2 linked regions of the Homo sapiens genome follow. The protein of the gene in region 1 purifies or fractionates together with the protein of each later gene. This does not show direct contact. Each region holds a gene or a part of one and is shown in the gene's direction. Other genes may lie near its edges.

What was found.
Region 2: the proteins of TSPYL4 (region 1) and NAP1L5 purify together in Homo sapiens (affinity purification with mass spectrometry; 4 studies listed by BioGRID and IntAct, with this or other methods). This does not show direct contact.

What each region holds. Positions count from the first base shown.
Region 1 is NC_000006.12:116,252,648-116,256,562, reverse strand, and holds the start of TSPYL4 (testis-specific Y-encoded-like protein 4), read left to right. Parts: upstream 1-2,487; 5' UTR 2,488-2,554; coding exon 2,555-3,799; 3' UTR 3,800-3,915.
Region 2 is NC_000004.12:88,696,018-88,699,932, reverse strand, and holds the start of NAP1L5 (nucleosome assembly protein 1-like 5), read left to right. Parts: upstream 1-2,103; 5' UTR 2,104-2,178; coding exon 2,179-2,727; 3' UTR 2,728-3,915.

The sequences.
Region 1 (3,915 bases):
TTAAAAAGTAGAGGATAAATAAGTACGGTCATTTGCTGCATAACATTTTGGTCAAAGATGAACTGCATATACAAGTGTGGGACCATACAATTGTAATACTCTATTTTTACTGTATCATTCTTATGTTTAGATACAAAAATGCTTACCATTATGTTACAAGTGCCTACAGTATTCAGTACAGCAACATGCTGTTCAGGTTTGTAGCCTAGGAGCAATATGATATACTATTTAGCTTAGGTGTATAGTAGGCTATTGCAGCTAGGTTTGATAGATGTACTGTATGATGTTTCCATAATGACAAAATCCCTGTCATTCAGTGAAACGTAACTGTACTAAGTTGGATAGTAAAAGTCATAAGGGCTATACAGAAATCAGAAGACTGTCAAAATGGCAAGTAATTAAGGAAGGAGGTAAAGTAATAAGGTGGGAGGAGGCAATCTGCCAATTAATACATATGTGACCATGGGCATGTTAACTGCTCTGTGCTCACTGGGTCTTTGTTTATAAAATCTAATGTATTTAAACTGCCTAGTACAATCTACATGAACTGAGTGTTAAAGAATGGCCAGGTGGTTATGAGTGAAAAATGATTCAGGTGACAGAACTAATACAGGCTAGAGATGGGAATGCTTTGAGTAGTAGAGATATAAATCTTTAAAAAACTTTGGCACACACAAAAAGAAAAAGAAGTTCACATGTAATTTTATACTTTTCTATAAATTTGTATAGTAGCAAACTTGTTTTTTCCTGCTGCATGGAAAAGTAACTTTCATTCAGTATTCCCTGCTTCTCTTCATCTTGACTCAGGTTATAATGGAAAAGTTACTCTTTCAACAGTGCAAAGGTTCTTTGGAAAAGAAACAGAGCAGTGTCAATAATTCAAAGTCACAAAGTCAATTATAGCACGCTGTTTATGTGTTTACAAAGACGATACCTCAATAGATTGATTTCACCCCACAAATAAAAAAAGAGCGTTTATTAAGACAAAGAGGAAAGAGGGAGAGAAAAATAATTGCTCTCTGCTGTGTGAATCTTGTTTGCATATTTCTTATGGGATAACTGATTAGCTGGCAGGCAGTAAAGAGGTCATTCTGGACACATTGTCCTTGGGTAGGCTGACTAGGCATACAAAAAATCCTGCAAGGCAGGCTGTTTCTCCGTATTGTCTGCCAGTGACCTTTCATCAGTACTTTATCTTAGTTGAACCAGAACTACACTCCTTCCCTCGCTAGAAGTCTCAGTATATATGATGTATTCCTCTAAGAGGAATCCTTTTTCTCTAAATCTGTACTTCTGAGCCTGTATTTGAAAGTGATCATAATCTGGGGGGCTTAAAATGGAGTTTCTTTTACAAAGAGTTATAATCATAACCGTTTATTTGAATATAAATTTGACATTAAACATAAATATGCAAAATTTAAATTTCCCTTTGGTCTTGCATTTTTCTAAGGATTAACACCATTATTCTCACACTCCAACAAACTAATATATTGTACTGATAATCACTATCAAATGAATTGTAAGAGCTAACTGACTCGAATAGACAATAACTAACCTTACTTTTAAAGTATTTTAAGAGACAGTAGCATAGATGCCTGCACATAGCTGATTATTGCTCCTGTGCTGCAGTGAATTACCACATGAACACATTTTGAAAAGATTTGTTAGCTTCATGTCCACAGGCATTATGAAGCAGGAACCACTTTTAGATTAAGATTGTAACCTGAGGAAAAGAACATATGCATCAGTTTAGAAATTAAAATCCCCTGAGATATTTCTTTCAGTAATGCTTAAAAGCCTAAATTTGTGCTCGTGTGCCAGTCACCTCTACGTAAGGAAAAACATTTTGCTACTCTTTGTTAAAAGTGAAGAGGAAATATTGTCCACTTGTTTTGTAGATGTTGGCCAAATTATATAAACTTTAAAATCTGTAAGACAAATTGAAATATTCCTTTATTATGTCTTGTTAGGATGAGAGAAGTTTGCCTTTCAGCTGCTCCTTAATTTTAAAAATAACAACACAGCAACACTTCTCTTTAAAATCAAACTCTGCTCATTTAAATTCTTTGGTAATAGCCATGAATCCACACCTTAAAAGAAGGAAGGCCTGTGAGTTCGTGAATCCACTTTCCTACTCAGGAGAAGCCCTATGAACTGACTTGAATAGACAGTAACTCACCTTAAAGTAAATATTTTCAGAAACAATAGGTTAGGTGCCTTAGAAATTCATTCAGAGGCTTAGAAATCCACATTAACACAGTTCTTACATGCTTGAGTCTGGTCTACATCCATTTACGTAAGTAAAACTCCCCTTCCAGACTGACGAAATTCTTTTTGTGACAAGAAGACAAAGGAATACGATGGATTGATAAGCGTAGTCAACCGCGCAGAGAGTTCTCGCGCGATGTTACGACGCTACCGCCCTGACATCACCAGTTGCCATGGTAGCACCGCCGAGAGTAAAGGAGGGGTGGTGCTAGACGTTTCGGGCAGAGCTCGGCCGCTGCGGAGGACAAGGAACTCTCCCTCTCCCACTAGTCTGACTTCTTCCAAAATGAGCGGCCTGGATGGGGGCAACAAGCTCCCTCTCGCCCAAACCGGCGGCCTGGCTGCTCCCGACCATGCCTCAGGAGATCCGGACCGAGACCAGTGCCAAGGGCTCCGTGAAGAAACCGAGGCGACACAGGTGATGGCGAACACAGGTGGGGGCAGCCTGGAGACCGTTGCGGAGGGGGGTGCATCCCAGGATCCTGTCGACTGTGGCCCCGCGCTCCGCGTCCCAGTTGCCGGGAGTCGCGGCGGTGCAGCGACCAAAGCCGGGCAGGAGGATGCTCCACCTTCTACGAAAGGTCTGGAAGCAGCCTCTGCCGCCGAGGCTGCTGACAGCAGCCAGAAAAATGGCTGTCAGCTTGGAGAGCCCCGTGGCCCTGCTGGGCAGAAGGCTCTAGAAGCCTGTGGCGCAGGGGGCTTGGGGTCTCAGATGATACCGGGGAAGAAGGCCAAGGAAGTGACGACTAAAAAACGCGCCATCTCGGCAGCAGTGGAAAAGGAGGGAGAAGCAGGGGCGGCGATGGAGGAAAAGAAGGTAGTGCAGAAGGAAAAAAAGGTGGCAGGAGGGGTGAAAGAGGAGACACGGCCCAGGGCCCCGAAGATCAATAACTGCATGGACTCACTGGAGGCCATCGATCAAGAGTTGTCAAACGTAAATGCCCAGGCTGACAGGGCCTTCCTTCAGCTTGAGCGCAAGTTTGGCCGCATGCGAAGGCTCCACATGCAGCGCAGAAGTTTCATTATCCAGAATATCCCAGGTTTCTGGGTTACTGCCTTTCGAAACCACCCCCAGCTGTCACCTATGATCAGTGGCCAAGATGAAGACATGCTGAGGTACATGATCAATTTGGAGGTGGAGGAGCTTAAACACCCCAGAGCAGGCTGCAAATTCAAGTTCATCTTTCAGGGCAACCCCTACTTCCGAAATGAGGGGCTTGTCAAGGAATATGAACGCAGATCCTCTGGCCGGGTGGTGTCTCTTTCCACTCCAATCCGCTGGCACCGAGGCCAAGACCCCCAGGCTCATATCCACAGAAACCGGGAAGGGAACACTATCCCTAGTTTCTTCAACTGGTTTTCAGACCACAGCCTTCTAGAATTCGACAGAATTGCAGAGATTATCAAAGGAGAACTGTGGCCCAATCCCCTACAATACTACCTGATGGGTGAAGGGCCCCGTAGAGGAATTCGAGGCCCACCAAGGCAGCCAGTGGAGAGCGCCAGATCCTTCAGGTTCCAGTCTGGCTAATCTCTGTCCTGTGAGAAGCTTCTGCACAAGTTTCCTTACCACCTCCTCTTGGACCTATGCTTGGCCAACAGCATGCAGTCTTCCATCTGCTTTCTCTTCATACTGTGGATTATCTT
Region 2 (3,915 bases), on another chromosome or scaffold:
GATTACTACAGTGCTTACATTACTGTATTTGCTTGTGAAAGCACGCCCAAAAGGACAAATTTTACTGTTATGTAAATGATACCTCAATAAGCCAGACTTTTTAAAAAACAGTCTGGTTTAACACTAAGTTTTAAGATCTGTTGAGACAGGAAAATAAAAATCTTGAAAGATGAACATGCCCTAAATATTTTAAGCAAGTTAAGTTAGTCAAATGAATTTAACCAAAATGTGGGATTTTTTTTTTAAAGTCTGTCACAACATCCATACTATAGGGGTCAAAAGGCCTGTTTTCTGCCCCTGCATCTGCCAATTAAGTGATACATGCAGTAAGATGATTTCACTGTATTTGCTTCTAAGTTTACTATCTGTAAAATGAGAAACATCATTCCTAATCTCAAGGCAGCTGTAGCCATCAAAAGAGATGATATATGGGAGTGAGAAAGAAGGCAGAGAAGATGGTGAGCCAGTAAGAAGATGGTGAGCAGGGTAAAGAAGACGGTTGGGGGAAGGTGGTGAAGACCGTGGGGGAAGGTGGGGAAGAAGACAGATCGTGGGGAAGAAGATGGTGGGCAGGGTGGGGAAGAAGAGGGTGGGGCTGCGTGGGTGGGTGGGGAGGAAGAGGGTGGGGCTGGGTGGGTGGGTGGGGAAGAAGAAGGCGGGGCTGGGGGTGGGTGGGAAGAGGGTGGGGCTAGGGGGTGGGGAAGAAGAGGGTGAAGAGGGTGAGGAAGAAGAGGGTGAGGAGCGTGAGGAAGAAGAGGGTGAAGAGGGTGAGGAAGAAGAGGGTGAGGAGCGTGAGGAAGAAGAGGGTGAAGAGGGTGAGGAAGAAGAGGGTGAGGAGCGTGAGGAAGAAGAGGGTGAAGAGGGTGAGGAAGAAGAGGGTGAGGAGCGTGAGGAAGAAGAGGGTGAAGAGGGTGAGGAAGAAGAGGGTGAGGAGCGTGAGGAAAAAGTTCGGTGGGGGGAAGGTGAGGAAGAAGGCAGTGGGTGAGGAAGAAGGGGGTGAGGAGGGTGAGGAAGGTGGGGAAGAAGAGGGTAAGGAGGGTGGGGAAGAAGAGGGTGAGGAAGGTGGGGAAAAGGACAGTGCGGCGGGGGGAAGGTGAGGAAGGAGGCAGTGAGTGGGGAAGAAGGCGGGGAAGAAGATGGGCAGAAGGTGGGGCATAAGTCAGTGCGGGGGAGGGGCAGGAGGGAGGGAGAAGATGTGGTGTGGAAAGGTGTGAAAACAGATAGTGGGGAAGGCAGGGAAGCAGACGGTGTTGGGGGAAGGCAGGGAAGACGAATGTGAGCGGGGTGGGATAGATGGCACATGCTTTAACCAAGATAAGAGGGGGCCTTGGCCCTGGGCCCCATGCTTTAGAAAGACTTGCTTTTTTTCAGCCCTCCTCAAGCTTTAGTCCTTCCCACAGGCCAAAGATTCTGTAGGATCTTCTAGAACACACACCAGGACACCGGGAGCTCTGAGATTTCCTACCCAAATGGCTCCAAAACTGCTTCCAGGGGAGTCCTGCTGAGAGACGACCTTGCCACCAAGATATATGCCGCTAGGTGTGTGGGATGGCCAAGGGGGTGTTGGGTGGACACATAGGTACAGAGCTTGGATATGCAAGCTGCCCTATCCACACACATGCACCCCAGGTCCCCAAAGGGGTGGAATGGAGCCAGCTTGCCCGTTCCTCCACTGCATGGAGAGGAATGCGGAGGAATCTAAGAGGTGATCAAACGCCAGCTATGGAGAGAGATGCAGAGGAAAGCGAAGACATATGCACTGGCATTTGTAGAAGGGCCTGGATGGGGGTGAGGAGCACACGGAAAATGGTCTGAGGCCATCTATGCAGTTCCTGAAGAAGCACCTCGGGCAGCTACTGACACTCCCAGCCCAGCTCTACAGGGGTGGGTACATGGGTGGGCTGGGAACAGGGTGTCTGTCCAACAGGCGGGTGTTGAGGGCCCAGAAGATGTCAGGGTAGCAACAGGAGGAATCTGGTGCAGTATGAGCACACGGCCGTCAGCTGATAGTGGGAAGCCAGTCAAGTGCCGCGAAAGCAGGAGGCGGGGCCGCGGCCAACGTCATTCCCGCGGCCGCACGTCACCGCCACTTGCCGCATCCGCAAGATCTCTCTGGACCAGCTCGGGTGCAGGGCCTCTGCGGGAGCCCTCCTAGACCTCTGCGGCTTCTCCTCTAACATGGCCGACTCGGAAAACCAGGGGCCTGCGGAGCCTAGCCAGGCGGCGGCAGCGGCGGAGGCAGCGGCAGAGGAGGTAATGGCGGAAGGCGGTGCGCAGGGTGGAGACTGTGACAGCGCGGCTGGTGACCCTGACAGCGCGGCTGGTCAGATGGCTGAGGAGCCCCAGACCCCTGCAGAGAATGCCCCAAAGCCGAAAAATGACTTTATCGAGAGCCTGCCTAATTCGGTGAAATGCCGAGTCCTGGCCCTCAAAAAGCTGCAGAAGCGATGCGATAAGATAGAAGCCAAATTTGATAAGGAATTTCAGGCTCTGGAAAAAAAGTATAATGACATCTATAAGCCCCTACTCGCCAAGATCCAAGAGCTCACCGGCGAGATGGAGGGGTGTGCATGGACCTTGGAGGGGGAGGAGGAGGAGGAAGAGGAGTACGAGGATGACGAGGAGGAGGGGGAAGACGAGGAGGAGGAGGAGGCTGCGGCAGAGGCTGCCGCGGGGGCCAAACATGACGATGCCCACGCCGAGATGCCTGATGACGCCAAGAAGTAAGGGGGGCAGAGATGGATGAAGAGAAAGCCCACGAAGAAAAAAGCCTGGTTTTGTTTTTCCCAGAATATCGATGGACTTAAAAAGGCTCAGGTTTTTGACCAAAATACAATGTGAATTTATTCTGACATTCCTAAAATAGATTAAATTAAAGCAATTAGATCCTGGCCAGCTCGATTCAAATTTGACTTTCATTTTGAACATAATAAATATATCAAAAGGTGTTAAAGAAAACTGAATTAAACCCAAAATTATGTTTTCATGGTCTCTTCTCTGAGGATTGAGGTTTACAAAGGGTGTTAGCAGATGCGAAGTAAAGAACGTCACTTTGAAACCCATTCATCACACAGCATACGCTACACATGGAACACCCAAGCCATGACTGAACACGTTCTCAGTGCTTAATTCTTAAATTTCTTTACTCATGACATTTCGCAGTGCAGAGAAGGCAGAACCCAAGAAAAACGTCATCTTTGAGACTTTGCTTTTGTAACGCAGACATCAGCTTTACACTTCACAGGAGATTGATGGCATTGAGGAAGATTGCAATGGAGATCATGACACTACTGTTAATAAGGCCAGGAAAACTGCCATTTCAAGTTCTGAAAAATGTTTTGAGTATTTGAATTTAGAGAAACAACATGGTTCCAAGAAGGAGGGTGTAAAACCTGTAAAATACTGTCAACATATGTATTCATTAGTTACAATCTCATGTTTGTGTTTTCTTAGTACTGTCTATTTACAAACACGTAAAAAATACCCCAAATATGTTTAAGTATTAAATCACTTTACCTAGCGTTTTAGAAATATTAATTTACTTGAAGAGATGTAGAATGTAGCAAATTATGTAAAGCATGTGTATCCAGCGTTATGTACTTTGCGCCTTGTGACGTCTTTCTGTCATGTAGCTTTTAGGGTGTAGCTGTGAAAATCATCAGAACTCTTCACTGAAGCTAATGTTTGGAAAAAATATATACTTGAAGAACCAATCCAAGTGTGTGCCCCTACCCCCAGCTCAGAAGTAGAAAGGGTTTAAGTTTGCTTGTATTAGCTGTGCCTTCATTATTTTGCTATGTAAATGTGACATATTAATTATAAAATGGTGCATAATCAAATTTTACTGCTTGAGGACAGATGCATACAGTAAGGATTTTTAGGAAGAATATATTTAATGTAAAGACTCTTAGCTTC